Linked DNA regions of Homo sapiens: regions 2 and 3 are each linked to region 1. The links come from fine-mapping of genetic effects on gene expression. A gene starts in region 1. Each other region holds a variant in brackets. All regions are shown on one strand. Distances are from middle to middle.

Region 1 (10,782 bases):
TGAGACTCCATCTCAAATATTTTTTATCAAATTCATCAGATGCTTGACCAACCAAACTGAAACTCAGGCCACCAGTTATACGGAAAAATGTGAACTTAGGTTCTGCTTCTACACACGGATGAGAAACATCTACATTTTTATCAGTTAATTAGCAGCAAATTATCAAAGTTTCCGACAGCCTATTGCACTACTATAATAATGCAAAAGGGTGCATCTAAGGATGGCTGTACCTATCAGCCAGTGGCATGAAACAGGATTTTTGCCTTTTCTGTTTCCTATATTCACATAATCAGAAGAGCCTGTTTTTTTAAAGGCTGGCAGTTATATGTTCAACCAATAACCTGAGAAAATGCTTGTAATAAGCTAAATCAAAAAGAGAGGACACAAAACTAAACATCACAACTACAATTTTAGAGGAACAAAAACTTCCTCTTAAAAGGCTGAGCGTGTACCAGGTGTGGTGGCTTACACCTGTCATCCTAGCACTTTGGGAGGTCGAGGCAGGAGGACCTCTTGAGCCCAGGAGTTTGAGATCAGCTGGGCAACAGAGCAAGACCCCCATTCTCTACAAAATAATTTAAAAATTAGCCGGGCATAGTGGCGCCTGTAGTCCTAGCTACTCCAGAGCCTAAGGCAGGAGGGATTGCTTGAATCCAGGAGTTCAAGGCTACAGTGAGCTATGATCATGCCACCTGTATGTGCCCCAGAGTATGGGTGACAGAGCAAAACCCTGTCTCAAAAAATAAAAATAAAAATAAGGCTGAGAGTAAATATGACAGAATAGTGGAATTACAGATAGGTAATTATCACTTTATTCTTTTACCTGTTTTCTAAATGTAACAGAAGGAACACATACTACTTTTAGAATCAAGAGGAAAAACATAAAAAAATTACATAAATAGATGGATTTACAAAATATGCTAAGAAACAAATATAAAACACCACTCTTTAGCTTGGTAATATTTTTTAAAGTGACAAATATAGGATCCTTTCTCCTGAACATCTCTAGACCCCCAAAACCACAGTCACATTCAAGACAATACAGAACTACACTGGCATACTACACTACACTGATATCAGCAAACTTTTTAAAAGTAACACTTTTTCAGCTTTTCAACAGGCAAGAACTGGAAAGTTCAAAGTAAAGAGATCAGAATTAGTAATTCCTCTGCAGAACACATTAGTATTTTTGGATATATACATAATTTAAGGATTCACTTAACAACATTACATCTTATCATGGATCAAGATACAGAAACCAGACTTAAAATAGGACAATGCAGCCAGGCTCAGTGGCTCGCCCTGTAACCCTAGCACTTTTCGAGGCCGAGGTGGGCGGGATCGCTTCAGCCCAAGAACAGGCAAGATAGTGAGACCTTCTTGCTACAAAAAATGTCAAAAATTAGCCAGGCAGGTCTAATGGCATGTCCTTGTTGTCTCAGCTACTCAAAAGGAAAAAAAACATAATTATTTAAAAAATATATACAAAATACAGAAGCTGGCTGGGTGTGATGGCTCATGCTTGTAATCCTAGCACTTTGGGAGGCCAAGGCAGGTGGATCACCTGAGGTCAGGAGTTCGAGACTAGCCTGGCCAACATGGTGAAACCCCGTCTCTACTAAAAATACAAACATTAGCTGGGCTTGGTGGCGGGCGCTTGTAATCCCAGCTACTGAGGAGGCAGAGGTTGCAGTGAGCCTAGATCATGCCATTGCACTCTGGCCTGGGAGACAAGAGTGAAACTCCATCTCAAAAAAAATAAACAAAATAAAATACAGACGCTATTGCTTTATTTTTATTTTTTTCAAATAGATACGGGGTCTTGCTATGTTGACCAGGCTGGCCTCAATGTGATCCTCCCAACCTGGCCTCCCAAAGTGCTGGGATAATAGGCGTGAGCCACCACACCTGGCCAGAAGCTATTGCTTCCTAACTCGAGCAGTATGGGCAATATCATCACTTGCATAACTTACCCTTATAACTAGTACATAATTTCTGTCAATCAATAGTTCAGATGATGTTAAATTTGATACACTGTGTTGGTTTTTTAATTACAGTTAACTACAAGCTAACTTCCAATATCTTTTAAAGTTACTTGAACTTTTGAAGAACAGCAGGTGTACGAATTAAATTTAAAACTTCTCCATAGTAGTTTGGCAAACCTGACACATCAGCTAACTGCTATCTCCTTTATACTTTAAAATGGTAAAGTCTGAATAAAACACTGACTCAGGAGGGCATGAATCTTATCTAAGCTTTATAAAGAAAAACGAAGCACACTAATGTAAAACATTAATAATTCCAACAGTTGAATGGGGCAGACACTTTAAAAGTGATCTATTATTTTTGCTGTCAGTCACTCATAAAGCCAGACAGAAAAATGTAAGAATTATCAAACTTCCAAACCACCTTTTTCCCTGTTCATGCACATATCTCCCTCGTACGTTGATACTTCCTTTGATGAGTTACCATAAATGTCGATCTTGTGACTGAAGTGTTTTTTAGTCAAGGAAAACTGATTATCCCAAAATTAAAGTGCAAAACGATAGCATGCCTGAGTAATAAAACATTAAAAACAAGTAACTCCTAAATCCTCCACACAAATGCAGAAACTTAAATATTTTTTCTCTCCCATTTTCTTCGAATCATTTTTTGGGGTGGAGGGAAATGCCTCCCAATATAGTAAATATATGAAAATGCTGGTAGCATACTTCTATATTCCTTGCCCCTCTGATACTTTCATCAATCACAAAAGACTAAGGAATTGAAAAATAGCAATTCATTTACAATAAATCTTAAGTAAAAAGACCAATATACTATGTGTTCTGGAACATAACCATATATTGTTAAATCTCTTTAACGAACAGACTGGAAATTCATTTATCACAGTCCGAAGTCCTCCCATTAACTTCCGATCCTTTTTCAGACTGCCAACTTTCAGCCACTGAAAACTTAAATATGCTTGCCCTCCTAAAATAATTCTGTCCTCTTGACAAAGGAAATCTAAGAAACTTTGAAAGAAAAAATACTTTATGAATGACTCATAAACAATTGATTCACAAAGTGTAAGTACGCTAAGAGGAAAATAAACATGAGCCAATGTATATACTGTTACTCTTTATATACCTTGAAATATTACAGAAGCTTGTGTTTGCAAGTTTTGATGGTAGTACAGCTCTAAAATAAAACCTCCGGCCGGGCGCGGTGGCTCACGCCTGTAATCCCAGCACTCTGGGAAGCCTGGGTGGGTGGATCACCTGAGGTGAGGAGTTCGAGACCAGACTGGCCAACGTGGTGAAACCCCCGTCTCTACTAATAATACAAAAAATTAGCCAGGCGTGGTGTTGCATGCCTGTAATCCCAGCTACTCGGGAGGCTGAGGCAGGAGAATCTCTTGAACCCGGGAGGTGGAGGTTGCAGTGAGCCGAGATTGCGCCACTGCACTCCAGCCTGGGTGACAAGAGCAAAACTCCGTCTGCAAAAAAAAAAAAGGAAGAGAAAAATAAAACCTCCTCCGGTAGAAAACAAGCTAATGAACCAACAAGTTTCAACGTTCAAAGTTAGAGGGGCTTCTTTCAGCGTTATTCTAGTCCATGGAGCTCAGCTGTGATGTAGACTGCTTACAGTAACCGGGAGCGGTTGCTTACTTCAGCCAACTGACAGCCCTTCTCCCTCAGCTGAGCAAAAACACGCCCCCTAAAAAGTAGTTTTTAAAAAGTCAACTTTCTAAAAAGAAATTTTAAAAAAATTGTAGTTACTATTTAACAAGACTACCATAAAATTCAGCGTCATGATGTTCAGTTACTTGAAAATTTATCAGGTATTTTTTAAAAATTCGTTTCTAAAATTTTTTTGCATTAGACCTTAGACCGCCTAAAAATAAGCTTAAAAACCTAGGAGAATAAACCAAACACATTTAAAGTTTTTGAAAATAGTCAAAGAAATAGAAGATAAGCTCAGTTTTCGGAGAATGAGATTAACAAGGAGCGAAAAACTTGAAACGGAATCCAGCGCAAGGCCAAGTTTAGCAAAGTGAGCGCTGAAGGACTCCAGACTCTTCGGAAACCTTGGGTGCTCCCTGGCCACCGCAACTTCCTGCCCCGGGCGGCTCCAGGCTCCGGGTGGCCGCTGGCTTACATACCAATGGAGTATGCAGGGACTGTACACGAAACGCAGAAGGGGAGGGAAAAGGCTGGAGTTGCTCTGCCTCCCTCCTGACCGCTGTCCACACCCGGGCAAGAAGGTATGCAGATCGCACCCCCAGAAAGGGCCTCGCCAAGTGTTTGCTTCCCAGAGTTGGCTTTCCCCACATCTCTGCCCAATGTTGTCCAGCTTTCAATAAGATCAAGGAGAAAAAGCCGAGTCCAGAAAGAAATCTTGCCCGAAGCCCTGTCCCTGTCTCGTCTGGCGACAGATCGGGGGCGGGGGGGATCGCTCACCCTCCGCTCCATTGTTCCCCCTTAAGAATTCCTTCCGACCCCCGACCCGGCGCCCCTCCCCCACCACAGCGGGCGGAGGAAAAAAACAGGCCCAGAGGCCACCCCAATTGTGGAGACCCTGCCTTTCCCAGGTCCCGCCTGACTCGCAGCCCCTCACTCACCCATCAAAATGCGCATCTGCTTCTTGCCAAATAGTCGGGAGAAGAGGGAGGAGATAGTGAGGCCCATGGCGGTAGTGGCACTTGTGATGGGCAGAAGCAGAAGGGGTTTGGGGCGACCCCGTGCTTTCTCCTTTCAAGCTCCCAGGCAAACTAAACGAGAGGGAAGAGAAAGAGCGGAGGAAGAAAGAGGGAGGCAGAAACGTCTCAGTGGCCCCTGTGCCGATGAAGATCCGGCACAGGAATAAGCCGGTAGAGGACCTGCTAGGCGACTGGCGCGGCAGCTCCGGCTCTAGCCTTTAGGCTCTGGCTGTGCCACGTCACGCGGCGGCCGCGGCGACTCCAGCAGCGGCCCGGCCCCTCCAACGCGGACAGAATCGCGTCACCGCCGCCCCATCCCCCTGCGCTTCCGGTGCGCCCGAGCCACTGCGCTTGCGCCTGCAGGGGATTGGCCAGTTTCGCTGACGAGCATCTCTCGACGGCGCCACCGCCCGGACGTGGCCCCAGGAGCCGGGAGAGGCCGGCTGAGGCACATGCGTACTGGGAGACGGACAAAGTCCCACAATACCTCGCTTCGTCACTGCCAAATCAGACTCAGGGTGAGACGCTTCCGCCCGGATGAAGGTATTGTCGGGGTGATAGTCCTTGCTTCCGGAAAGGCGAGCTGAGCATTATGGGTTAGGTGAGGAACCTCGCCCTCTTCTATTACGGTACGCGCGATGGGTATTCCCTGATGCCATGAACTTACACGTTTCACACACGGGACCAGACGCTTGCTTTAGTTGACGCATGAAGACCGGTCCGGTCTTTTGCGGAGAAAAGTGGTTAAAAGCTGACTTGTGGGCCGAGAAACTGTGGCACCCTAATGAGCTAGGGCTAGACGCTTCGACCACCACGCCAAGTGATTCTGAAGATCTCTAATTCTGTCAAGGCGAGAGCGCTCCAACACGTGTTCATCGGCTGTTGCTTTTTAAAGAGAAGGCAAGGAGGAAGTCTTGCTTTTCTTGTACTTTTTTTCCTAGAAGCAGCATTAAAGATTTACTCCTTATGTTGAGGAAGCGGAAAGCCTCTTCACTTTAAAAGTGTTTATGATCGGGCCTGGCGCGGTGACTCACCGCGCCCGGCCTGCTACACCTTTTAAAATTCACAGCAATGATAAATGTATTAGACTCATTGCCAGGATAAAGATTTAATCTATTTTTCTAGTAGTGCCGTCCTATGTGGTTCTGTAGTTGCTTATTCCAACTGGTATATTTCCATAGGATGGGGTTGAATAAGAAAAACTTGCAAACTTTCAGAAACAGTAAGTTATTTTTATATTTTTGAAGGCTTGCTGAGTAACGCTTCTCTTGGTAGCACTACCTTATCTACCCTTCAGAGACTGTTATTTCTTAGGAGTGGCCCTGGGCAATTAAAAGCAAAAACTTCTGGCCGGGCATAGTGGCTCATGCCTGTAATCCCAGCACTTTGGGAGGCCGAGGCGGGCAGATTACGAGGTCAGGAGATCGAGACCATCCTGGCTAACACGGTGAAACCCAGTCTCTACTAAAAATAGAATAAATTAACCGGGCGTGGTGGCGGGTGCCTATACTCCCAGCTACTCCGGAGGCTGAGGCAGAAGAATGGCGTGAACCCGGGAGGCGGAGGTTGCAGTGAGCGGAGATCGCGCCCCTGCACTCCAGCCTGGGCGACAGAGCGAGACTGTCTTAAAAAAACAAACAACAACAACAAAAAAACCCCAAAAACTTCTTTACTCAGAAGTACCCTCCTTTGCATTGGAGATACATGTAAAGAGTTGCTTAGCAGTTGAATAACTCAAAATTGCATTTTGGAAGCTTGCTAAGTGACAAGACCTTCTTGTATCCTTTTGTGAACCCCCAAAATATGAGACAGGCCTCAGTTAATTTAGAAAGTTAATTTTGCCAAAGTTGAGGACACGCGTCCATGACATAGCCTCAGGAGGTCTTGTAGACATGTGCCCAAGGTGATCAGAGCACGGTTTGGTTTTATACATTCTAGGGAGAAATGAGACATCAATCAATATATGTAAGATGAACATTGGTTCATTCTGGAAAGACTGGACAACTCAAAGCAAAGGCAGGAAGACTCTGAGTGGGGAGGGAGCTTCCAGGGCATAGATAGATAAGAGACAAATGGTTGCATTCCTTTGAGTTTCTGATTAGCCTCTCCAAAGGAGGCAGTCAGATATGCGTTTATCTCAGTGAGCAGAGGGGTGACTTTTTAAAGAATGGGAGGCAGGTTGGCCCTAAGCAGTTCCCAGCTTGACTTTTCTCTTTAGCTTAGTGAGGTGGAGGCCCCAAGATTTATTTTCCTTTCACACTTTAGGCCTTATGTCTGTTTTTAGTTTTATATAGTAGAATTCCTTAAAACAATCTTCAACTAATTCTTAGGGTCTTCTTAAATTCAAAAGACAAACCGTATGAGCCCTCCTCCCTGTAACTTATTCCAAATCTTAATCCATGTTTTCTGTTTAGTTATGCAAAATAAATCGAAAGAATTCTGTTCTCCATCTCTAGCCTCCAAAACCTGAACCAAAACAAAAGTTGTCAAAACAGATTTTTCAGTAAGAATACACTACACATCAAGTGGCTAATGTAAATTACAAAACAGGATGTTAATGGCAGACTGTAATATCTCTATTGTACAGATAAAAATAATCAGGGTCAGAGAGATTAAATATTCTGCCCAAGGTCACACAGCTAAAAGCAGTGGAACAGCTATAAGAACCCATTTCTTCTGGTATTAACTGGTATTTACACTCTTTTTTTTTTTTTTTTTTTAATAAATAAGTGGATTCTGGCTATGTTGCCCAGGCCTGTCTGGAACTCCTGGGCCCAAGCAATCCTTCCACCTCAGCCTCCAAAGTGTTGGGATTACAGGTGTGAGCCAGTGCACCCAGCCATTAACACTCTTAACCACTACACTATACTACCTTCTTACATTTATTTATTTATTTATTTGAGACAGGGTCTCACTTTGTCACCCAAGCTGAAGTACAGTGGCATCATCTCGGCTTACTCAACCTCCTGGGATCAAGTGATCCTCCCACCTCAGCCCCCAAAGTAGCTGGGACTACAGGTACACCACCACATTGGCTAAGTAGTGTTATTTTTTGTAGAGACAGGGTTTTGCTATGTTGCCAAGGCTGGTCTCAAACTCCTGAGCTCAACCAATCTGTCTGCCTTGGCCTCCCAAAGTACTGGGATTATGGGCCTGAGCCACTGTTCCCGGCCAAATTCTTTTCTTTTCTCTTTTCTTTTTCTTTCTTTCCTTTCTTTTCTTTCTTTCTCTTTCTTTTCTTTCCTTCATCCTTCCCTCCCCTTCCTTTCCTTTCCCTTTTCCCCTCCCTTCCCCCTTCTGTTCCCTTTTCCCTTCCCTTTTCCCTCCTCTCCCTTCCCCTCCCCTCCCTTTTTCCTCCTGCCTCAGCCTCCCAAGTAGCTGGGACCACAGACATATTCCACCATGCCCAGCTATTTTATGTATTTTTGGTAGAGTTGGCGTTTTGTAGAGACCAGCATGTTGCCCAAGCTGGTATCCAGCTGCTGAGCTCAGGCGATCTACTCGCCTTGGCCTCCCAAAGTGTTGGTAGTAGAGGTGTGAGCCACCGTGCCCAGACCCCAAATTTATTTTTATTTTATTTTATTTTTCTAGGTCAGGCATGGTGGCTCACACCTGTAATCCCAGCATGTTGGGAGGCCAAGATGGGAGACTCACTTGAGCCCAGAAGTTCCAGACCAGCCTTGGCAATATAGTGAGATGCCATTTCTATTTTAAAAAATATTTTAAAAATAAAATATTTTTCTATTCACCTTTCATCAATACAAACCCAGAAGAGAATCTTTCTTATTTTTAAAAATGAGGAAATTGAGCCCTACAAGAAAAATTGCTATAGTTTATTGATCACTTGCTAAGCCATGTACTTCATTTAATCATCGCTTTTGAACACAGTGTTGTATAAAGTTGCCCAGGCTCAAAAGCATGTACTCATAACATACTACACTAGGTAGTATGTTTTCCTCATCTCTGGTTATTTTATTTTATTTTTTTTTGCTCTGTCACCTAGGCTGGAGTGCAGTGGGGCGATCTTGGCTCACTGTAGCCTCTGCCTCCTGGGTTCCAGCGATTCTCCTGTATCAGCCTCCGGGGTAGCTGGAATTACAGGCACATGCCACTGCGCCCGGCTAATTTTTGTATTTTTAGCAGAGAGGGGGTTTCACCATGTTGGCCAGGCTGGTCTCGAACTCCTGACCTAGGTGGTCCACCCACCTCGGCCTCCCAAAATGCTGGGATTACAGGTGTGAGCCACCGCGCCCAGCCTCTGACTATTTTTCTTAGTGAGATCTTTTTAGTCACAAATATGTATATGGAATTTACATTCCAGTCCCTTGGGTTTAATAATGTACAGACAGCAGACCCCCTGTATCTTCAGGTTTCAAACCCACAGATTCAGCCAATAGCAGATGTGGAACCTGCAGATGCAGAATGGCAACTGTAAGGGCCTTGAGCATCTGCAGATTTTGGTATCACGGGGATCCTGGAACCAATCTCCCCAAATACCCAGGTACAACTATAATTATTTTTGCTGATTGTTATGTCTCATTAGAATGCAAGCTTATTAAGGAAACCATATCTCTTCCTTTTTTCTTTCCTTCTTTTTTTTTTTTTTTTTTTTTGAGACAGTCTCGCTGTGTCACCCAGGCTGGAGTGCAGTGGCGCTATCTCAGCTCACTGCAATCTCTGCCTCCTGGGTTCAGGTGATTCTCCTGCCTCAGCTGCCCAAGTAGCTGGGACTACAGGTGCACACCACCACACCCGGCTAATTTTTTTTTTTTTTTGTATTTTTAGTAGAGATGGGGTTTCACTGTGTTGACCAGGCTGGTCTTGAATGCCTGACCTCAAGTGATCTGCCCACCTCGGCCTCCCAGAGTGCTGGGATTACAGGTGTGAGCCACCATGCATGGCCTGCCTTTGAATTTTTTAAAACATTTGAGCAGATATATTCTATAAATAGCGGTACTATTTAATAGCAATAAGTGGTTACTGAGCACTTACAATATGCCATTGTACTTAATGTGCATTATCCCATTTAATCCTCTCAACAGTTTAATCCATGCCACTCACCTTGTTCTCTGCGAGACTGATTCAATTCTGTTGTAGTCCCCTTATTCATTACATGACAGTATAATTTTTGCCATTTCCTCCTAACCTTTGTAAACTCTACTTTGATCTCATCTGACTGTAATTCACCACTGCTCTTGTTTAAAGTTCACATTCTCTAAACACTTATTTATCTGCACAGTACAAGAATATCTGTGCTTCTACAGAGAGTCTTGTCCACCCACTTTCCCTTCCAGAAGGGGATTGGTATGTGAATTCTGAGTGTTTGGATCGTTTGGCCCACCCTATTACCTCTCAACAACTCAAGCTCTCTGCCATGAAGTTAAAAACCTTCCCTTACTCTCAGTGCCCTTTATTGTCTCCTCTTTTTTTGTTTTTTGAGCCAGAGTCTCGCTCTGCTGCCCAGGCTGGAATGCAGTGGCACGATCTTGGCTCACTGCACCCTCCGTCTCCTGGGTTCAAGCGATTCTCCTGCCTCAGCCTCCCGAGTAGCTGGGACTACAGGCGTGCGCCACTACGCCTGGCTAGTTTTTGTAGTTTTAGTAGAGACGGTGTTTCACCATGTTGGCCAGGCTGGTCTCCAACTCCTGACCTCAGGTAATCCACCCGCCTCGGTCTCCCAGAGGGCTGAGATTACAGGCGTGAGCCACCACGTCCGGCCTACCATTTAGCATTTATAAAAGTTTCCCAGTTAGGCCAGGTGCAGTGGCTCATGCCTGTAATCCCAGCACTTTGGGAGGCCAAGGTGGGAGTTTGAGACCAACCTGGCCAACATGGTGAAACCCCGTCTCTACTAAAAATACAAAAATTAGCCAGGCATGGTGGCGGGCGCCTGTAATCCCAACTACTCAGCAGGCTGAGGCAGGAGAATTGCTTGAACCCGGGAGGCGGAGGTTGCAGTGAGCCAAGATCGTGCCACTGCACTCTAGCCTGGGCAACACAGCGAGACTCCGTCTCAAAAAAAAAAAGGGGTTTCAAAGTTAAAGAAATTAGGTAGCTTAAAGCTAAATATCCAAGACTATTTACCAGGTACCACTGCAACATTA
Region 2 (10,782 bases), 49 kb before region 1:
GCTCTGTCGCCCAGGCTGGAGTGCAATGGCGCGATCTTGGCTCACTGCAACCTCCGCCTCCCAGGTTCAAGTGGTTCTCCTGCTTCAGCCTCCCGAGTAGCTAGGACTACAGGTGCGCAACCACGCCCAGCTACTTTTTTGTGTTTTTAGTAGAGACAGGGTTTCACCATGTTGGCCAGGCTGGTCTCGAACTCCTGACCTCAGATGATTTCCCGCCTCGGTCCCCCAAAGTCCTGAGATTACAGGCGTGAGCCACCGCCCCCAGCCAATCATTAATATTTTTAAACATCAGTATGATATCTTAGTCTTGCTGCCTTCCAAGAAAGTGATGCTATGATCAAGCAAAAAATAGGCATACTTGATGCATGGCAAATATAAAATGTCATGTAAATGCTCAAAAATTTTACTGTGGGCCAGGCGCGGTGGCTCACGCCTGTAATCCCAGCACTTTGGGAGGCCGAGGTGGGCGGATCACCTCAGGTCGGGAGTTCGAGCCCAGCCTGGCCAACATGGTGAAACCCCATCTCTACTAAAAATACAAAAATTAGCCGGGCGTGGTGGCAGGCGCCTGTAATCCCAGCTACTCAGGAGGCTGAGGCACAAGAATCGCTTGAACCTGGGAGGCAGAGGTTGCAGTGAGCTGAGATCCCGCTACCGCACTTCAGCCTGGGCGATAAAGCGAGACTCCGTCTCAAAAAAAAATTGTACTGTGATAACAACTATATTTGCCATGAATGCCTACAGGATTTGGAGATTCCTGCCTTGAAAGAGTGTTTAAGTTGGCACCCAAATCGCGATACCTGCCCTGGGAGAGAAAGGAAGAGAACAGCAGAGAACAAGTACCTGATTGTTTCTCACTACTTCCCCGCTGCGCAGACGCCAGAGAGAGAGAGAGACAGTCAGAGCCTCTCCTCAGGTGAAAGGCAGGGGGATAACGAGGGAGAAACCTCCGGAACGCCACCGGCTCTCAAACGAGTAGCTGGAGAAGGGCGGTCGCTGACCGGTTGGAAACAACGTCGTCGCCATGGAAACTGTGGCGGCCCCAGCTGGAGGGGCTGGGTGAAGGTTGCCTGGAGAGGCAGTTGCCAAGCTGCAAGGGGTTAGGATTACCTGTCACAACAATAATTCGTTACTCAAGTAAATGGGGTGTGAGGTTTTGTTTGTTTGTTTTAACCTAACTGCCTTTCCTGGGAAGGGGACCAGGAAATTAGAATCTTCAAACTGTGGAAAACTGCAAGACTGGAAATTTAGATCTGTTGGAAAACAGATTTATGGAAACACTCTCAGCAAGAGAATCAAGTCTTCAAATGTCCCCTAGTGACACCCTGTAAATATTGTAACTAATCAGCAATATAATTTATCTTGCTTCTAGATTTGCTATTTGTTGACACAGCACTTCCAGGAATTCTTTGGCAAAATCAAACAGGTTAAGGTGTGTGAATTTAGTGGTATGCTGGGAGAAAGATGTGAAATTTTGCTGTTTGAAGCTGCACAATGCATACTACATCTAAATGATAATAGCCTACGAGAATACTATGTGCCAAAATTAAATTAGGGAAGTGAATACTGCCGGTGTGTTAACAGCATATTCATTCAACAAATATTTGAGCACCTTCTATGTGCCAGTTGCTACGTAATTTTTTTTTTTTTTTTTAATGAGAGTACAGCCTACACTATTGTGTCTGGCACAGAGTAGGTGCTCTAAAATGTCATTTAAGCGAGTGAATGAACAAGTAAAACTTCCTGGTAGTTTGTAAAAGCAAATTATCTTTCTGTAGAAAATAAAATACTTGTATAAATAATGTGACTTTTTTTTTTTTTTTTGAGACAGAGTTTTGATCTTGTTGCCCAGGCTGGAGTGCTCACCACAACCTCCACCTCCCAGGTTCAAGTGATTGTCTTGCCTCAGCCTTCCAAGTAGTTGGGATTACAGGCATGCATCACCAAACCCGACTAATTTTTTTTCTTTTCTTTTTTTTTTTTTTAGTAGAGACGGGGTTTCTCCATGTTGGTCAGGCTGGTCTTGAACTCCTGACCTCAGGTCATCCGCCCACCTCGGCCTCCCAAAATGCTGGGATTACAGGCGTGAACCACTGCACCATGCCACCTTTTCTCTTTTAAACTCAGTCCTATGACAGATTAGACAGTTTTTTTAATGTCAATTTGTTAGGGTTTATTTTTTAGAGACAGGGCTCTCGCTCTGTCACCCAGGCTGGAGTGCAGCGGCACCATCATAGTGAAAGGAGTCAGCTAGATTTTGCATTAGGTAGATAGCAAGGGAAGGGTCCCCAGAGAACCCCCAGCCCATGGGTCAGTGCCTCATCCCCACATAACATAAAAAGCAGCCTGGGAAAAAATTCAAGCGGCAGGCACCAATAAGGGAACTAGCACAGGGTGTTGTGCCTGGAGACATGCCCACGGCTCCACAGATAGAAAAATCTCCAGCCCATTTGGACAAAAACTTGCACAGACCTCCTCCTCACTCACATAAAGGAACAAAGAAATGCCTTTGTCCTTTGTATAGTCAATGGGCTCCCAGGGAAAAAAAAGTTTATTTTCCTTTTGTGGGTATGGGCACAGTGGGCTCCAGTAGGTTCCAGTGGGCACTCTACTTTCCTTTATTTGGATTGTAAGTCCGGCTTCTAGGAATCATCACTTCAGCTCCTGATTTGTCCTGGGCCAAGGTCCAGGGCCAAACTTTCTCTTCAGTTCCTGATAGGTCCCGAGCCAAGCTAAGCAGCATCTATGAATCATCATTTCAGCTCCTGATTAGTACCAGGCCAAGCCCCAGGGTAGCGGGGTCGGGGGACGAAGCACATTCCTTCCCCTTCCCAGTCCATAAAAACCCTGGACCCCAGCCTCATAGGGGGCACCCCATTCAGGTCCCCCTCTCTGCTGGCAGAGAGCTTTCTTCTTTCTCTTATTAAACGTTCGTTCTAAACTAACCTTTGGGTCTGCGCTCCTTAATCA[T/A]CTTGGAGGTGGGACAAATAACTCCAGGTGTTATCTCAGACAATGAGAAACTGTTACATCTTGGTGCATTGCTGAGACTACAGCAATAGCTCACTGCATCCTCAAACTCCTGGGCTCAAGGGATCCTCCCACCTTAGCCTCCTGAGTAGCTGGGACTACAGGCACACACCACGACATCGGCTAATTTTTAAAAATATTTTGTTGGGACAGTGTCTTACTATGTTGCACAGGCTTGCCTCAAACTAGTGGACTCAAGCAATCCTCCTGCTTCAGCTTCCTAAAAGTGTTGGGATTATAGGCATGAGCCACCATATCTAGCCTGAATGTCAATTTGGTTAGGCTAAATTAGAAGAACTAAAGAGAAGGCAGCAATCTTGTGTATGATATACCCACCTTCTCCCAGTCATTAATCAAACACTAATCTAGGGCTGCTGTGAGGAGATTACAGCTCAATTCAAGTCCCTGGTCAATTGACATTGATCTAAGAAGATTATCCTGGGTGAGCCTGACTCAATCAGTAGAAATCCTTTTAAAAAGATTTAGGCCTGGCAAAGTGGATCAACCCTGTAATCCCAGCACCTTAGGAGGCCGAGCCAGACAGACTTCTTGAGGGAGTTTGAGACCAGCCTGGGCAACATGGTGTAACTCTGTCTCTATTTTAAAAAATTAAAAATTAAAAAAATAATAATAAAGAGATGGGCATGCCCTGAGTCAAACTCCAAACAGCAGCTGGGTCTATAACTGCTCTCCATTTTCTGGTTCTTCCCTTCCTGACAGATAGTCTGCCCTACAGACCATGGACTTGGTTAACCAGCCCCCTCCATTGCATAAGCCAATTCTTTGTTTAAAAAAATATATATATATGTATAGACATACACACACACATATATAGATATAGATATAGATATAGATATAGATGATATGTATTATATCTTAGTGGTTCTGCTTCCCACTTTGAACCCTGACTGATACAATGTACGTCCTTTTTTTTTTTACTTTAAAAAAAAATTTTATTATAGAGACAAAGTCTCACAATGTTGGCCAGGATGGTCTTGAACTCCTGGCCTCAAGCAATCCTCCTGCCTTGGCCTCTAGATGTGCTAGGATTACAGGTGTGAGCCACCACGCCTGGCCGATGTACATCCTTTTTAATAGCCAATGTTTCCAAAAGTGTGTTCTTTTACAAGAACAGATTCCTCTTGAGCTTATACAAATAAATAATATTGCCATAAAACAAGAATACTCATGAATAGTTTCCTAATTCTGGAGATATCAGGTAGAGAGAAAGATAAATATTTCAATTTTACTCACAAAATATACCAAAAAGTTACCAAATTGCTATAAAACTACAGATAATGCAGAGAAAAAAAGTTTTCTTAACTCTGAAAGAAAATAATAATAAAAAGCAACGTTTCAAGCAAAAAAGTCATTAAAATCATTTCAGTCCTCATCAGTTCCGTCCCATGTAATTAATTTTTGTTCTACTTGATAAATTAGCAATTTTAAGTCCAGTTTTTACCATTGGAGTTTCTCAAGTTCTTATTCAGTCCAACTTAATAATCAACAGAGGCCTGTATTCCAGAGTATGTATCAGACTTTTTATCCTTCTCATAAACCTCTTTGAAGACACAATGCTTTAGGATTATATTTGCTTGCAAAGATCATTTAGAAAAAACATTAGAATAAAGCAATTTACTACGAACAACAAGATTTAGAATGGCTATGGTGAAAGACCTGGTAAGAGTTTACAACAATGATGCGATTGACAAGGAAATTTGTTTTTTTCTGTAGTCTATAACAAGTTTACATAGTAGCCATAATTATGACTGATAACATACAAAAAGACACATCAGACTTTTAGGAATCTCATATACTTTTAAAACACATATTAATAACATGTTCATATAAATGTAATGCAAAGGTTTCCTGTATAATTTACATATCAAATAAGCCTAATACGTCTCTCTTAGGCTTCCAGGGGCCATTCTGGGATAACCTAAGGTTAGTTTGAGGCCGAAAAGACTTAATTTAGAATTTGAAATTTGACTTTGGGAAGCCTGTCAAGTATGTCAAAGGATAAAAACACTCAATTAAAATAGAAAAGGCCAGGCTCAGTGGCTCAAACTTGTAATCCCAGCACTTTGGAAGGCTGAGGTGGAAAGATCACTTGAGCCCTGGAGTTTGAGATCAGACTGGGCAACATCAGGGGACTCTGTCTCTACAGAATATTTCTTAGCCAGGCGTTGGTGGTGTGCACTTGTGGGCCCAGCTACTTGGCAGACTGAGGGGGGAGGATCACTTGAGCCTAGGAGGTCGAGGCTGCAGTAAGCCATTACTGCACCACTGCACTCCAGCCTGGGTGACAGAGTGAGACACGGTCTCAAAAAAATTGTTTTTAAATGAAAACAAACGAGGAAAGTTTTAAGACATTTGATCAAAAGAAGATCATAGGTCACTGTAAAATAACAGTTATTCATTTAGCCAAAGTGAAAATTTAAAAGATTTTACAAAGCAGTGCTCATTTCGGCAGCACATAATATTAAAACTGAAATGATACAGAAAAGATTACCATGGTGCCTGCATAAGGATGACACACAAATTTGTGAAGCATTCCATAGTTTTTTTAAAAAAAGATTTTATAAAGCAAAATCCTTCACTTTTTCATAGAGAGAAGACTCAGTTTTCCAAATAATGAAAAGATCTAACAAAGAGAGCAGGGCCGGATGCAGTGGCCTGTGCCCATAATTCCAGGTACTCAGGAGGCCAAGGTGGGAGGATCACTTGAGCTCAGGAGTTCAAGGCTGCAGTGAGCTATTATGGCTGCACTTGTGAATAGCCAATGCACTCCAGCCTGGGCAACAGAGTGAGACTATGTTTATAAAAAATATTTTTAATTAAAAAATTTAATCAGGCCAGGTGCAGTGGGCCACAGCTGTAATCCCAGCACTTTAGGAGATTGAGGCAGGCAAATCACTTGAGGTCAGGAGTTCGAGACCAGCCTGGCCAACATGGTGAAACCCCGTCTCTACCAAAAAATACGAAAATTAGCCAGGCATGGTGGTGCGCGCCTGTAGTCCCAGCTACTTGGGAGGCTGACGTGGGAGAATCGCTTGAACCCAGGAGATGGAGGTTGCAGTGAGCCAAGATCATGCCACTGCACTCCAGCCTGGGCAACAGAGTAAGACCCAAAAAATTTTTTTAAAAATTGTTTAAAGACAGCATGAGGCACACAATCTGTTTCTCTCTCTCTCTCTTCTTTCTTTTGCAATTTACTCAAAAAGTGAACAAAATCTTTTACTATATTTTATTTTATTTTTTGAGACAGGGTCTGGCTCTGTCACCCAGGCTGGAGTGCAATGGCGCAATCTCAGCTCACTGCGACTTCAGCCTCCCAGGCTCAAATCATCCTCCCACCTCAGCCTCCAGAGTAGCTAGGACTACAGGCATGAACCACCATGCCCAGCTAATTTTTGTATTTTTGGTAGAGACAGGGTTTTGCCATGTTGCCCAGGCTGGTCTCAAACTCCTGGGCTTATGCAGTCCTTCTGCCTTGGCCTCCCAAAGTGCTGGGATTACAGGTGTGAGCCACCATACCTGGCTTACTATCTTTTATTAATACCACCAGAAAATCATGTTCAAATGAGAGAACCAAATTTAGTTTTGTATCAGTGTATTACTAAAGCAAATTTCAATAAAACCATAAGGCCAGGCATGGTGGTTCACGCCTGTAATCCCAACACTCTGGGAGGCCAAGGTGGGAAGATCTCTTGAGGCCAGGAGTGCAAGACCAGCCTAGGCAACACAGCTAGCGAGACCCCATCTCTACAAAAAAAAGTTTTTTTAATTAGCCAGGCATGGCTACATACCTGTAGTCCTAACCACCTGGGAGACTGAGGCAAGAGGATTGCTTGAGCCCAGAAATTTGAGATTACAAATGAACTATGACGACACCACCATACACCAGCCTGGGTCACAGATCAAGACCCTGCTTTTAAAAACAAAACAAAACAAAACAAACAATGAATAAATAAATATTAATAATAAAACCTTATAAACAAATAGATCCAGTCTCAGTCAACTTTGACCACATAAGAAATCCATAAGCCTTTTATAACCTCTTACAGTTTTTAAATTTTTTCTCCAACTTTTTATATCCGTTTATTTTTGTATACATTTTTCCATACATTTATTTTTATTTTTATTTTTTGAGACAGAGTCTCACTCTGCCACCCAGGCTGGAGTGCAGTGGTGCAATCTTGGCTCACTGCAACTTCCCCCTCCCGGGTTCAAGCGATTCTCCTGCCTCAGCTTCCCAAGCAGCTGGGACTACAGGCACGTACCACGACGCCCAGCTAAATTTTTTTTTTTTCTGTATTTTTAATAGAGATGGGGTTTCACCATGCTAGCCAGGCTAGTCTCAGAGTCCTGACCTCAGGTGATCCACCCGCCCTGGCCTCCCAAAGTGCCATATATTTATTCTAAGACAATCTTTAAATAACCTTTAATTAGGCAAAAGTTTTTCATTTTTTTTGTTATTGTTTCAGTGGCTAGAAACAATTTTTTTTTTTTTTTTGAGATGGAGTCTCGCTCTGTCGCTGAGGCTGGAGTGCAGTGGCGCAATCTCGGCTCACTGCAAGCTCCGCTTCCTGGGTTCACACCATTCTCCTGCCTCAGCCTCCCGAGTAGCTGGGACTACATGCCCAGCTAATTTCTTTTGTATTTTTAGTAGAGATGGGGTTTCACCGTGTTAGCCAGGATGGCCTCGATCTCCTGACCTTGTGATCCACCCGCCTCAGTCTCCCAAAGTGCTGGGATTACAGGCGTGAGCCACCGTGCCCAGCCAAAACAAAAATTTTTAAACAAAAGCACATATACTCATGACTTAACTTTTCCTCACTAAAAAGATATGTTGTTTTTATCGTACTCTGTATACAAAATTATTTATTTATTTATTTATTTATTTTTTGAGATGGAGTCTCGCTCTGTCGCCCAGGTTGGAGTGCAGTGGCGCGATCTCGGCTCACTGCAAGCTCCGCCTCCCGGGTTCACACCATTCTCCTGCCTCAGCCTCCCTAGTAGCTGGGACTACAGGCACCCACGACCACGCCCTGCTAATTTTTTGTATTATTAGTAGAGACGGGGTTTCGCCGTGTTAGCCAGGATGGTCTCAATCTCCTGACCTCGTGATCCGCCCGCCTTGGCTCCCAAAGTGCTGGGATTACAGGCATTAGCCACCGCGCCCGGCCACAAAATTATTTCTTACTTTCAGTAGTTTTAATTACATATATTACTTTGAATTTTAACTCTTAGTAACCCTAATTTCTAGTGACAACCCAGGAAGTCAGTAATTTTGAATTGTTTTATATCAGTATTTGCAGACAACAGCCACTTAATAATTTCTAAAAAGATATGTTTTCTCAAAGTGTTATTAATGAATCCAAATATATTTAGCTTTCTATATCATATGAAACAAGACATCAAAAAAATGAAAAAAAAACAGAACTTGAGAATAAGTGGGAAAAATGAAAAAAAGACATCAAAGTATATAAACTTAAGTTTAATAATTAATGTTTCAGTATTTTCACTTAGAAATAACTCAGACATTTTACTTTTTTTTTTTTTTAAGAGATGGGGTCTCGGGCCAGGCATGGTGGTTCACGCCTGTAATCCCAGCACTTTGGGAGGCTGAGGTGGGCATATCATGAGGTCAAGAGATCGAGACCATCCTGGCTAACACGGTGAAACCCTGTCTCTACTAAAAAATACAAAAAATTAGCTGGGCATGGTGGCAGGTGCCTGCAGTCCCAGCTACTCAGGAGGCTGAGGCAGGAGAATGGCATGAACCCAGGAGGCAGAGCTTGCAGTGAGCCGAGATCACGCCACTGCACTCCAGCCTGGGCGACAGAGCAAGACTCCATCTCAAAAAAAAAAAAAAGAGATGGGGTCTCACTATGTTGCCCAGGGCTCAAACAATCCTCCCGTCTCAGCCTCCCAAAGTGCTGGGATTACAGGCATGAGCCATTGTGCTCAGCCAATGCGGACAATTTATAATTATCTATTACTTCATTTAATACAGCATGACTTTAAGATTTTAAATTACTGAAAAAGTTTTGGAAACTATGACAAGTTTATTTGTAGATGCTTATCCCATTCACAGTTATCTAATTTACTTGTTCTTAACAACTGTATTTCATTTGCTTATGGAAAGCAAAACTAGCCATTTATGTTATTTATTTATTTATTTATTTTCATTAAGCCCCTTCCATTCTAGAAAGTTATTTATTTTGAAAAAACAAAGCCACCAGGTATAGTGTCTCATCTCATACTGCTAATCTCAGCCCTTTGGGAGGCTGAGGCAGGTGGATCGCTTGAGCCCAGGAGTTTGAGACCAGCTTGGGCAACATAGTGGGATCCCCCATCTCTACAACAAATAAAAAACAATTAGTTGGGTGTAGTTGCGTGTACCTAAAGTAGGAGACCAAGGAGTTCAAGGCTCCAGTGAACTATTATGTTGCCACTGCACTCCAGCCTGGGTGACAGAATGAGACCCTGTCTTAAAAAAATAAAAAGTGGCTGGGCGTGGTGGCTCATGCCTATAATCCCAGCACTTTGGGAGGCCAAGGTGGGTGGATCACCTGAGGTCGGGAGTTTGAGGCCAGCCTGACCAACATGGAGAAACCCTGTCTCTACTAAAAATACAACATTAGCTGGGTGTAGTGATGCATACCTGTAATCCCCGCTACTCAGGAGGCTGAGGCAGGAGAATCGCTTGAACCCAGGAGGTGGAGGTTTTCACTGAGCCAAGATCATGCCATTGCACTCCAGCCTGGGCAAAAGGAGTGAAACTCCATCTCAAAAAATAAATAAATAAAGAGCAAAGAAAACACAAAACTAACCTAACCCTGCATCAGCCAGTCTCATCTTAACCAAGGCCTTTCAGATATTGGACAGAGGCACTTTTCCCAATATCCCTTTGTCCTTCTCCAACCCCAGTCACCCTGTTCCTGAGTATCCATGTGGCATCCAGGACAGCTATGAAGGGCAGAGCCCATCTGTGTCCTGGATTTACATACCAGGTATAGAGCCCAGTACAGAGGATAAAGCTGTGAAGATGATGGTGGAGGTTCCAACCCCTCCCAACATGATAAGGATGCAGAGTTGCGCCAGGGAGGACAGGGCCATACTGCACTCAGCTTTACATGCAGCTGGTAGTCCAGGTGATACAGACACACACGTTTCCAGGCTTCACCATGGCCACCTGTCTAGATCTCAGAATCCAGAGGCCCAAAGCCAAAGACAAAAGCTCATATCAAAATGTGTGCAAGGTTTCAGGGGAGCCCCGCAGCCTGACCTCATAGTTTTAACTTATACACAAATCAAGCAAGTATTAAAAATATCACGGAAGCAACAGTTTTATGACTTTAAAACATCTAGCAAAGAAAGCATAAATCTGTCTGACCAATTGATGTAGGCAAAATGTCTAAATTAAATTCTGAAGATATTTCTTTTTTTTTTTTTTCCGAGACAGAGTCTTGCTGTCTCCCAAGCTGGAGGGCAGTGGCGCGATCTCGGCTCACTGCAACCTCTGCCTCCCAGGTTCAAAAGATTGTCCTGCCTCGGCCTCCTGAGTAGCTGGGATTACAGGCGAACACCACTGCGCCCGGCTAATTTTTGTATTTTTAGTAGAGACAGGGTTTCACCATGTTTAGTAGAGATAATGAAACCCCGTCTAATTTTTGTATTTTTAGTAGAGACGGCGTTTTAACATATTTAGTAGAGACAGTGAAATTCCATCTCTACTAAAAATACAAA
Region 3 (10,782 bases), 110 kb after region 1:
AACTTTTTTCATGTCCAGTTTTTCTGACAACCAAAAAATTGCCTAATTAGCAAATTAAACTGGTGTATTTATGAATTAAAGTAAAGATTACTATTTTTTCTTAAATATTTTTGTTTTGGCCAGGAGCAGTGGCTCACACCTATAATCTCAGCACTGTGGGAGGCTGAGGCGGACTGATTGCTTGAGGCCAGGTATGTTCAAGACCAGCCTGGGCAATGTGGTGAAACCCTGTCTCCACTAAAAATACAAAAAAGTAACCAGGTATGGTGGCATGCACCTGTAGTCTCAGCTACTCAGGAAGCTGAGGTGGGAGGATTGCTTGAGCCTGGGAGGTCGAGGCTGCAGTGAGCCAAGATCGTCCCACTGCACTCCAGCCTGGGCAATGGGAGTGAGACCCTGTCTCAAACAACAACACAAAGTTCTGTTTTGCAAAACTAGGATTTTGTTGTTGTTGTTGTTGTTAGTTTAGTTATGGAGTCCCACTGCCTTTACTTGCCCATCATCCATTGTACCCTCTTCTGCTTAAGAGTCCCCAGTTTTCGACGAGGCACAGTGGCTCACACCTGTAATCCCAGCACTTTGGGAGGCCAAGGTGGGAGGATCCTCTGAGGTCAGGAGCTTGAGACCAGCCTAGCCAACATGTTGAAACTCCATCTCTATTAAAAATACAAAAATTAGGCGGGAGTGGTGGTGTGCGCCTGTAATCCCAGATACTCGGGAGACTGAGGCAGGAGAATCACTTGAACCCAGGAGGCGAGACTGCAATGAACCGAGATCGTGCCACTGCAAGCCAGCCTGGGAGACAGAGGGAAACTCCGTCTCAATAAATAAATAAATAAATAAAAAAGTCCCCAATTTTCTAATGGGGAGCCACCTCCCCAGTGATCTCAGTCCATGAGGTTCAAGAGGAGGTAAGCACTACTCCTGGATTCCAGCATGCGCATGTAACCCAGGCCTAGACAATCAGTGTATTCTATATACCTAGAACAATGATGGGTGCAGGCATATCCCCATGCATGACCCGATCAAACAATGCAACTCAACTCTGGGGGTCATTAGAACTGTTCTGAAGGAGGCACTGTCCTGACACTGGGATTGCTGAAAGGATAGAATATAAGCTTGGAGCCTTATCACTCTAAAGGAAGAGCATACCCAACAAAGAAAACGCCAAGAAATAGAAAGAGGAAGACAAAGTCCAAATGACATCATTCAACCCTGGATTCAGCCAAGGCTGAACTTTTCACATACATGAGTCAATAAATTTTCCTTTTAGATTGAAGCCAGCTTGAGCTAGATCTTCTGACATGTGCAACTGTAAGAGTCCTGACTAATATGATTACACATGGTTAATAGTCCTGATTCATTACATTAGTCTTTTAAGTCCTGATTCATTACATTAGTCTTTTACCATGCCAAGTGCTTATATAAAATCTTCCCGGCAGGGCACAGTGGCTCACACCTGTAATCCCAGCACTTTGAGAGGCCGAAGTGGGCGAATTGTCTGAGGTTGGGAGTTTGAGACCAGCCTGGCCAATATGGTGAAACCGGGTCTCTATTAAAAATACAAAAAATTTGAGGCTGGGTGCGGTGGCTCATGTCTGTAATCCCAGGACTTTGGGAGGCTGAGGTGGGCAGATCACGAGGTCAGGAGATTAAGACCATCCTGGCTAACACAGTGAAACCCCATCTCTACTAAAAATACAAAAAATTAGCCGGGCATGGTGGCGGGCGCCTGTAGTCCCAGCTAGTTGAGAGGCTGAGGCAGGAGAATGGCCTGAACCTGGGAGGCGGAGCTTGCAGTGAGTGGAGATCACGCCACTGCACTCCAGCCTACGCGACAGAGTGAGACTCTGTCTCAAAAAATAAAATAAAATAAATTTAAAAATAAATAAATAAAATAAAATTAGCCCAGCTTGGTGGTGCACGCTTGTAATCCCAACTATTCAGGAAACTGAGACGGGAGAATCGCTTGAGCCCGGGAGGCGGAGGTTGCAGTGAGCCAAGATCGCGCCACTGCATGCCAGCCTGGGCAACAGAGTAAGACTCTCTATCAAAAAAAGATAAAAATAAAAAAGGAATCTTCCCTTAGAGTTTATTTGCCCCCAAAAAAGCCATATGATACAATAGTTACCTAATGAATTGTTTCTGGATTTTTATATCCTAAAATAATCTACAAAAACAACCTAAGGGTCCATCAGCAGATGAATGGATAAATAAAATATGGTACAGATACAATGGGGTACAATTCAGCCATAAAAAGGAATGAGATCCTGTCATTTGCAACAATATGGATGGAACTGGAGGTCATTATGTTAAGTGAAATAAGCCAGACACCGAAAGACAAACCACATGCTCTCACTTACTTGTGGGAGCTAAAAATTAAAACAATTGAACTCATGGAGACAGAGTAGAAGGATGGTTACCAGAGGCTGGGGAAGGTAGTGGAGGCATAGGGGGAAGTGGGGATGGTTAATGGGTATGGAAAGTAGATGGGGATGGATACCCCCATTTACCATGATGTGATTATTATGCATTGCACGCCTATATCAAAATATCTCATGTACCCTATAAGTATATATACCTACGGTGTACCTACAAAAATTTTAAAATAAAATAATCTACAATTTTTTTTTTTAAGACAGAGTCTCACTCTGTTGCCCAGGCTGGAGTGCAGTGGCGCCATCTCAGCTCACTACAATCTCTGCCTCCTGGGTTCAAGCGATCATTCTGCCTCAGGCGAGTGGCTGGGACTACAGGCAGTTACCACCATCCTTGGCTAATTTTTTTCTTTTTTTTTTTTTTTTGAGACGGAGTTTCGCTCTTGTTGCCAAGGCTGGAGTGCAATGGCGCAATCTCAGCTCACCGCAACCTCTGCCTCCCGGATTCAAGCCATTCTCCTGCCTCAGCCTCCTGAGTAGCTGGGATAACACGCATGTGCCACCATGCCCGGCTAATTTTGTGTTTTTAGTAGAGACGGGGTTTCTCCATGTTGGTTAGGCTGGTCTCAAACTCCCGACCTTAGGCGATGCGCCCACCTCGGCCTCCCAAAGTGCTGGGATTACAGGTGTGAGACACCATGCCCGGCCAACAAATTATTTTTAATAGGATAAAATAGGGGAAATATCATTACTATAATATAATCATTATCACCTAGTAAAGGATATTTATCTCACCAAAAAATAAACAATTCTCATGAAAAATAATCTTCAAAACAAAAAGAGACAGCGGTTGGGCGTGATGGCTCATGCCTGTAATCCCAGGCTGGTGGATCACCTGAGGTCTGGAAGGAGGCCGAGGCTGGTGGATCACCTGAGGCTGGAGTTTGAGACCAGCATGGCCAACATGGTGTAACCTAGTCTCTACTAAAAATACAAAAATTAGCTGGCTGTGGTGGTGCATGCCAGTAATCCCAGCTACTCAGGAGGCTGAGGAAGGAGAATCACTTGAACTGGGGAGGCAGAGGTTGCAGTGAGCTGAGCTCACACCACTGCACTCCAGCCTGGGCGACAGAGGGAACTCCGTCTCAAACAAAAACAAACAAACAAAAAACAACAAAAACCAAAAAGAGATAGCTCAATTCATTCTCCCCTCCTTCAAATATTTGTTTCATTTGTGAAAAATGCAATGCTAAACTCTGAGGGAGAGCAAACTGAGTAAGATTTTTTTAGGACTTTATAATTTAGCAGGACAGATAAAACATGTATGCAAATAAGTTATTCAGTGTTCCCTGAGAATTACAGAATAAAAATAAATAATATCTAGAAGAGGTTTAAAAAATCTGTAATATTATTAAAGCTGTAAGAGTTTTTGGAGATGTGACAATTCTGTCAACACGTGTGGAGGAAATTACAGTTCAGCGAGCCAGTGACTTAGTTCCCATAGCAAGTCAGTGGCAAAATCCCACTAGAAAACAGACCTCTTAGACACAGTCCAACATTCTTTCTTATTACCCCACCCTACCTCTGTTAGAAGAGAAGCAAAATACCAAGAAGTTTCTTGAACTATAATTTTTCTTCAGCACAACCTGAAATGGAGAGAGAATCTCCAAGACCACACTAAAATAAGTGTGATTCTCTCTCTCTCTTTTAAAAAATCATTTATAGAGGTACAACAGCCAAGACTCTGCCTCAGTTCTCAGAGTTTGGCTTCAACTTTCTGTCATGGTTTTTCTCTCATTGACTTTTGTTTTTTCTTGAATGTGCAACGACTTTGCCTGAGCAAAATCCCAAACAGCTTGTTTTGAACATGTTTGTTCTCTTCTCTCTTCTGGGCAAACTAATGGAGTCTGGGAGTGCAAACGTTAGTTACCTAAGTTAAACTTAATCCAGGAAGTCTTCTTTGGCTGATTTCCCACTTTGGCAGTGCCAGCCTGAACAAAAGACTTAAACACTGCAAATTCTAATTATCTTGTGAGTAAGAGCTTTGTCTACAGGAAGTAAAGAAAATACAAATATTCAAAACTAGCAGTGTTATTCCTAGACATCTTCTTGTCAAGAACTTACAAAGAGGACTTGTTCTCATTAGAAATAATTGCTGTGAAGTACAATTTTTACAGTGTTACTGAGATGGCAACTCCCTACAAATAATTTGAGAGAGTGGATTAAAAATTTGGTTTTAAAGAACAAAGTAGAGGTCTCATACTCCCTGTTTTCGAAACTTACTACAAAGCTACAGCAATCAAAACAGTGTGGTACTGGCATAAAGACAGACCAATAGAGTACCATACAGAGCCCGGAAACAAACCATTGCATAGTCAAATGATTTTTGACTACAGTGCTGAGACCATTCAATGGGGAAAGGACAGTCTTCAAGAGCAAAGGTACTGGAAAACTGTATACCCACATGCAAAAGGATGAAGTTGCACCCTTACCTTTTAACATATATGAAAAACAATTCAAAGCCAGGCATGGTGGCCCATGGCTGTAGTCTCAGCTACTGGGAAAGCCGAGGCAGGAGGATCACTTGAGTTCAGGAGTTCAAGGCTGCAGTGAGTTATGATCATGCCACTGCATGCCAGTCTTGGTGACAGAGTAAGACCATTACCCCCTACTGCCCTGAATCCTCAAAATGGATCAAAGACATAAACATAAGAGCTAAAATTGTAAAGCTCTTAGAAGAAAACATAGGAGAAAAGCTTCACGATACTGGATTTGGCAATGATTTATTGATATGATGCCAAAAGAACAGGCAACAAAAGAAAAAAGAGATAAATTGGATTTCATCAAAATTAAACACTTTTATATATCAAAGGATACCACCAACAGAGTAAAAAGGCAACCCACAGAATGGGAGAAAATATTTGCAAATCCTTTATCTGATAAGGAATTAATATCCAGAATATATAAAGAACTCCTATAACTCAACAACATAAAAACCAACAACCCAATTCAAAAATGGGCAAAGGACTTGAACAGACATTTCTCCAAAAAAGACATACAGATGGCCAATAAACACTTGAAAAGACGTTCAGCATCACTAATCATTAGGAAAATGCAAGACAAAGCCACAATGAGATACCACTTCGCATCCATTAGGATAGCAAAAGAAAGAGAGAGAGAAAGGAAGGAAGGGAGGGAGGGAGGGAGGAAGGGAAGAAGGGAGGAAGAGAGGGAGGGAGGGAATATTAAATTCTGGCAAGGATGTGGAGAAATTGGAACACTTGTTTGTTGTCAGGGGAATGTAAAATGGTGCAGCCTCTGTGGAAAATACTATGGAGTTTCCTCAAAAAAAAAAATTTTTTTTTTTGAGATGGAGTCTAACTTTGTCACCCAGGCTG[G/T]AGTGTAGTGGCGTGATCTCGGCTCACTGCAACCTCCACCTCTCAGGCTCAAGTGATTCTCCTGCCTCAGCCTCCCGAGTAGCTGGGATTACTCAGCCTCCCAAGTGGCGGGGACTACCGCCACGCCCAGCTAATTTTTGTATTTTTAGTAGAGACGGGGCTTCACCATGTTTGTCGGGCTGGCTTCGAACTCCTGACCTCAAGTGATCCACCTGCCTTGGCCTCCCAAAGTGCTGGGATTACAGGCATGAGCCACCGCGCCTGGCAAAAAATTAAACATATTCATAAATTTAGCTATGATGCAGCTTGCATGCTTTCTCCTTTTCCTTAATTATGTGAAACTGAAGAGTTGCTTGTCTTGTTTTCCTTTATAGAACTTTGTTTTTTCTTTTTCTTTTTTTTTTTTTTCTGAGACAGGATCTGGCTCTGTTGCCCAGGCTGGAGTGCAGTGGCACAATCTTAGCTCACTGCAACCCCCACTTCCTGGGCTCAAGCCATCCTCCCACCTCAGCCTCCCGAGTAGCTGGGACTACAGGGGCACAGCATCACACCTGGCTAATTTTTGTATTTTTTGTAGAGATGAGGTTTTGCCATGTTGCCCAGACTGATCGTGAACTCCTGAGCTCAAGTGATCTGCCCATCTTGGCTTCCCAAAGTGCTGGGATTACAGGTGTGAGCCACCATGCCCATTCAGAAGTTTTTTTCTTAATGTGAAAGTAATTTGACCAAGTTTTTTTTTCTTTTTTTTGTTCATTTTGAGATGGAGTCTCACTCTGTCACCCAGGCTGGAGTGCAGTGGCGCAACTGCAACCATCGCTTCCTGGGTTCAAGCTATTCTCCTGCCTCAGTCTCCCGAGTAGCTGGGACTACAGGCACTTGCCACTACACCCAACTAATTTTTGTATTTTAGTAGAGATGGGGTTTCACCATGTTGGCCAGGCTGGTCTTGAACTCCTGACCTCAAGTGATCCACCCGCTTCGGCCTCCCTAAGTGCTGCAATTACAGGCGTGAGCCACCGTGCCCGGCCTTGACCGAGTTATGATGCATTATTCTCTTTTTTAAAAAATCCCCTCCTTAAACAGAGCTATAAAGTGGCCAAATCTGAGAACAATCACATTCATTTTAGTTATAATAAATTTAATATTTGTAAATATAAAAAAGTTTAAACACAAAATTACAATATGATCCAGCAATTCCACTTCTAGGTATATACTTGAAGTGAAAGCAGGGACTCAGACAGATATTTGCATACCAGTGTTCATAGCAGCTTTATTTACAATTGCCAAAAAGTGGAAACAACCCAAATGTCCATCTGAAAATGAATAGACTTTTTGCTGTTGTAGAGACAGGAGTCTACCTATGTCACCAAGCTGGTCTCAAACTCCTGGCCTCAAGTTTTAAAGCAGAGTTTATTAAAAAGCTTTAGAGCAGGAACAAAAGGAAGTACACTTGCAAGAGGTTTCAAGTGGGCAACCTGAGAGATCAAGCACACAGTTTGACTTTTGACTTGGAGTTTTGTTTTTTTTTTTTTTGAGATGGGATATGGGATCTTGCTCTGTTGCTCAGGCTGGTCTTGAACTCCTGGGCTCAAGCAATGCTCCCACCTCAGTCTCCCCAAGTGCTAGGATCGCAGGTGTGAGCCACCACACCAGGTCTGACTTGGAGTTTTATGCATTGGCATGCTTCTGGAGGGTTGTGTCCCTTCTGCCCTGACTCTTCCCTTTTGGGGTAGGCTGTCGGCATGCAAAGCGGCCTGCCAGCACTTGAGAAGGGCCACATGCGCAGTGTGTTTACTGAAGTTGTATGCATGCTCAGTTGAGGCATTTTTCCCTTACCAGTTGTGTGTTTATACTCCGCCATTTTGCCTCTTAGTGACTTGAGGCATTTTTCCCTTACCAGTCAAGTGTTCCTAAGGAAGGTCACATACCAGTTAAACTCTGCCATTTTGCCTCTTAGTGCACATGCTTGAGGCTACTCACTCAACTCCTGAGATGTTTTATTTTATTTTATTTTACTTTATTTTATTTTATTTTTTGAGATGGAGTTTCACTCTTGTTGTCCAGCTGGAGTGCAGTGGCATGATCTCAGCTCACTGCAACCTCCGCCTCCCTGCAACCTCCGCCTCCCAGGTTCAAGCGATTCTCCTGCCTCAGCCTCCTGAGTAGCCCCCACCACCACATCTGGCTAATTTTTGTATTTTTAGTAGAGACGGTGTTTCACCATGTTGGCCCAGCTGGTCTCAAACTCCTGACCTCAGGTGATCTGCCCACCTCGGCAGATGCTGAGATTACAGGCCTGAGCCACCACACCCGGCCAACTAATTATTATTTCAGAGAGGCAGTTTAACAAGCGCCTGACCATTAGGCGCGGTTTAACAAGTGCCTGATGGTTGCGACGTTCCTGGATGTTGGGGGCTCTCTCCTTCCCTGCTCATGTCTAACTAACTACCAACTGTAACAACTGGAAAAGACAAATATTGTATTCCACTTATATGGGGTACCTAGAGCAAACAAACTCATAGAGACAAAGTAGAATGGTGTCTGCCCGGGGCTAGAGGGAGGAGGGAATGGGACGTTGTTATCTAATTAATGGACGTACGTTTCAGTTAGGGATGATGAAAAAGTTTTGGAGATGAGTAGTGGTGATAGCTACACAATAACAGGAATGTACCTAATGCCACCGAACTGTACATTTTAAAATGGTAAATGTGATGTTATATATATATTTCAAAAAAAAAAGAAAAATGTTGACCAGGCACAGTAGCTCATACCTGTAATCCCAGCACTTTCGGAAGACAAGGCAGGAAGATCATTTGAGCCCAGAATTCGAAACCAGCCTGGGCAAACAGTAGGACCTTGTCACTACAAAATAAAAAAATAGCCGGTGTGGTGGAGTGCACCTGTAGTCCCAGCTACTCTGGATGCTGAGGTGGGAGGATTGCTTGAGCCCAGGGAGTCGAGGCTACAGCAAGCCATGATCCCACCACTGCACTCCAGCCTGAGCAACAGAGTGCAACCCTGCCTCGAAAAATTTTTTTTTTTGTTTTAGGCACATATTTATTGAGAATAATTTTCAAGAATAAAGGTTGTTTATCTGTAGGGCTTTTTCCCCCACAGGTTAATATGCACTTTGAAGTTTCATTCATTCATTGCTGAATGTGTGCTTTGAAGTTCTATTCACAAATGTTCATTGACAACTTGCTGAAGTTGCAACAGTGAGCAAAACAGACATAGCTGCAGCCACAACAGAGCTTACTATTTATTGGGGGAAATAGGTAAAAAGAAGTTAAATAAATAGGTTGGGTGTGGTGGCTAATGCCTGTAATCCCAGCACTTTGAGAGGCCAACGTAGGCGGATCACTTGAGGCCAGGTGTTCCAGACCAGCCTGGCCAACATGATGAAAACCCATCTCTACTAAAAATACAAAAAATTAACCAGGCATGGTGGCACATGCCTGTAGTCCCAGCTACTCGGGAGGCTGAGGCAAGAGAATTGCTTGAACTTGGGAGACAGAGGTTGCAGTGAGCCGAGATCACACCACTGCACTCCAGCCTGGGCGACAGGATGAAACTCTGTCTCAAAAAAAAAAAAAAAAAAAGAACTTAAACAAACATATAAAATAATGAATTATAAATGTGAAGAAGTAAACGTTGTGCTAAGATAGATTAGTGGGGGTGAGGAAGACCTACTTTAGATGGATCTGATAGTTGCTTTATTGTATGCTAGAGCTGAGTGATATAATAAAAATAAATATTTGGTCTATGACCTCGGTTCCCAGCACACAGCTCTTAAAACCCTTGGAATCTCTGGAGACATAAGAATATTTTGTGTATGCTAAAAGACGACTGGTGGGTGGGTGTCCCTAGATAGCTTCAGGATTGGGGCTAGTTTCCAGAAAGACCAAGACATGATTAGAGGCTTGGAACTTTTAGCCCCACTGCCTGATCTGTGGGGAGGGAAGAAGAACCAGAGATCCAATTAATCACCAATGCCAGTGATTTAATCATTCATGCCTACACAATGAAGCATCCATAAAAACCCTAAAGAACAAGGTTCAGAGAGATTCCTGGGTTGGTGAACACATCAAGATGCTTGGAGGGTGGCACTCCCAGGGAAGGCATGGAAGCCCTCCCCACAACCCGTACCTTGCCTTATTCATCTCTTCCATTTGACTGTTTCTGAGTTATATCTTTTATATCTAAAAAAAATATTAATAGGGCTGGGTGCAGTGGCCTACGCCTATAATCCCAGCACTTTGGGAGGCTGAGGTGAGTGGATCATCTGAGGTCAGGAGTTCAAGACCAGCCTGGCCAACATGGCAAAACCCCGTGTCTACTAAAAATACAAAAATTAGCCAGGCGTGATGGTGGGTGCCTGTAATCCCAGCTACTCGGGAGGCTGAGGCAGGAGAATCATCTGAACCCGGGAGGCGGAGGTTGCAGTGAGCTGAGATCGTGCCACTGCACTCCAGCCTAGGCAACAGAGCAAGACTCCGTCTCAAAAAATAAAATAAAATAAAACAAACCATTAATAGTAAATAAAGCATTTTCCTGAGTTATGTGAGCCATTCTAGCAAATCATGAAACATAACGAGGGAGTAATGGGAGCCTCCAGTTTATAGCTGGTTGGTCAAAAGTACAGGTGGCAAGCTGGGACTTACAACTGACATCTGAAGGGGGAGCAGTCTTGTGGGACTGAGCCTATAACTTGTGTGATCTCATGCTCACTCCAGGGAGAGTGTCAGAATTGAACTGAATTGTTGGACACTCAGTTGGTATCTGGAGAGCTGGAGAATTCGTTGGCATGAGAAAAAAACCCACACATGTGGCATCAGAGATATTGTGAGTGAAAATAGTTCAGAGGCTGCCATAACAACATACTACGAACTGGGTGGCTTAAACAACCGAAATTTATTTTCTCACAGTTCTAGAGGTTAGAAGTCCAAGATCAAGGTGCTATCAGAGTTAGATTTCTGGTGAGGCCTTTTTTCCTGGCTTATAGACAG

Which allele goes with the higher level. Alleles are on the strand shown, and positions count from the first base shown. SD is a standard deviation of normalised expression in the study named. Not every link is listed here.
As copies of T replace A in region 2, the expression in activated naive CD4 T cells of the gene that starts at base 4,871 in region 1 goes up (large effect, 0.91 SD a copy in Schmiedel 2018).

What was found. PIP is the estimated chance that this variant, and not a neighbour inherited with it, causes the effect.
Region 2: its variant is the best candidate, but not a certain one, in a credible set for the expression of ARF4 in activated naive CD4 T cells (Schmiedel 2018, PIP 0.88).
Region 3: its variant is the best candidate, but not a certain one, in a credible set for the expression of ARF4 in whole blood (INTERVAL, PIP 0.60).

What each region holds. Positions count from the first base shown.
Region 1 is chr3:57,592,474-57,603,255 of GRCh38, forward strand. ARF4 (ARF GTPase 4) reads right to left here and starts at 4,871. Exons shown (of 6, transcript NM_001660.4): 1 at 4,601-4,871. The coding sequence starts at 4,667. It overlaps ARF4-AS1 (ARF4 antisense RNA 1), which reads left to right and starts at 5,316. Exons shown (of 2, transcript NR_132370.1): 1 at 5,316-5,578; 2 at 8,270-8,443. It also overlaps a transcript of PDE12 not described here. RefSeq lists enhancers at 4,275-4,324, 4,345-4,494, 4,408-5,607, 4,483-5,188, 4,525-4,574 and 4 more.
Region 2 is chr3:57,543,354-57,554,135 of GRCh38, forward strand. DNAH12 (dynein axonemal heavy chain 12) reads right to left here and starts at 991. Exons shown (of 74, transcript NM_001366028.2): 1 at 844-991. It also overlaps the pseudogene RNU6-483P. RefSeq lists an enhancer at 579-1,129. The variant T/A (reference allele first, on the strand shown) is at 2,971.
Region 3 is chr3:57,705,376-57,716,157 of GRCh38, forward strand. No RefSeq gene overlaps it. Among named protein-coding and RNA genes, the nearest start is that of DENND6A-DT, 18 kb to the left of the region's middle. The variant G/T (reference allele first, on the strand shown) is at 5,777.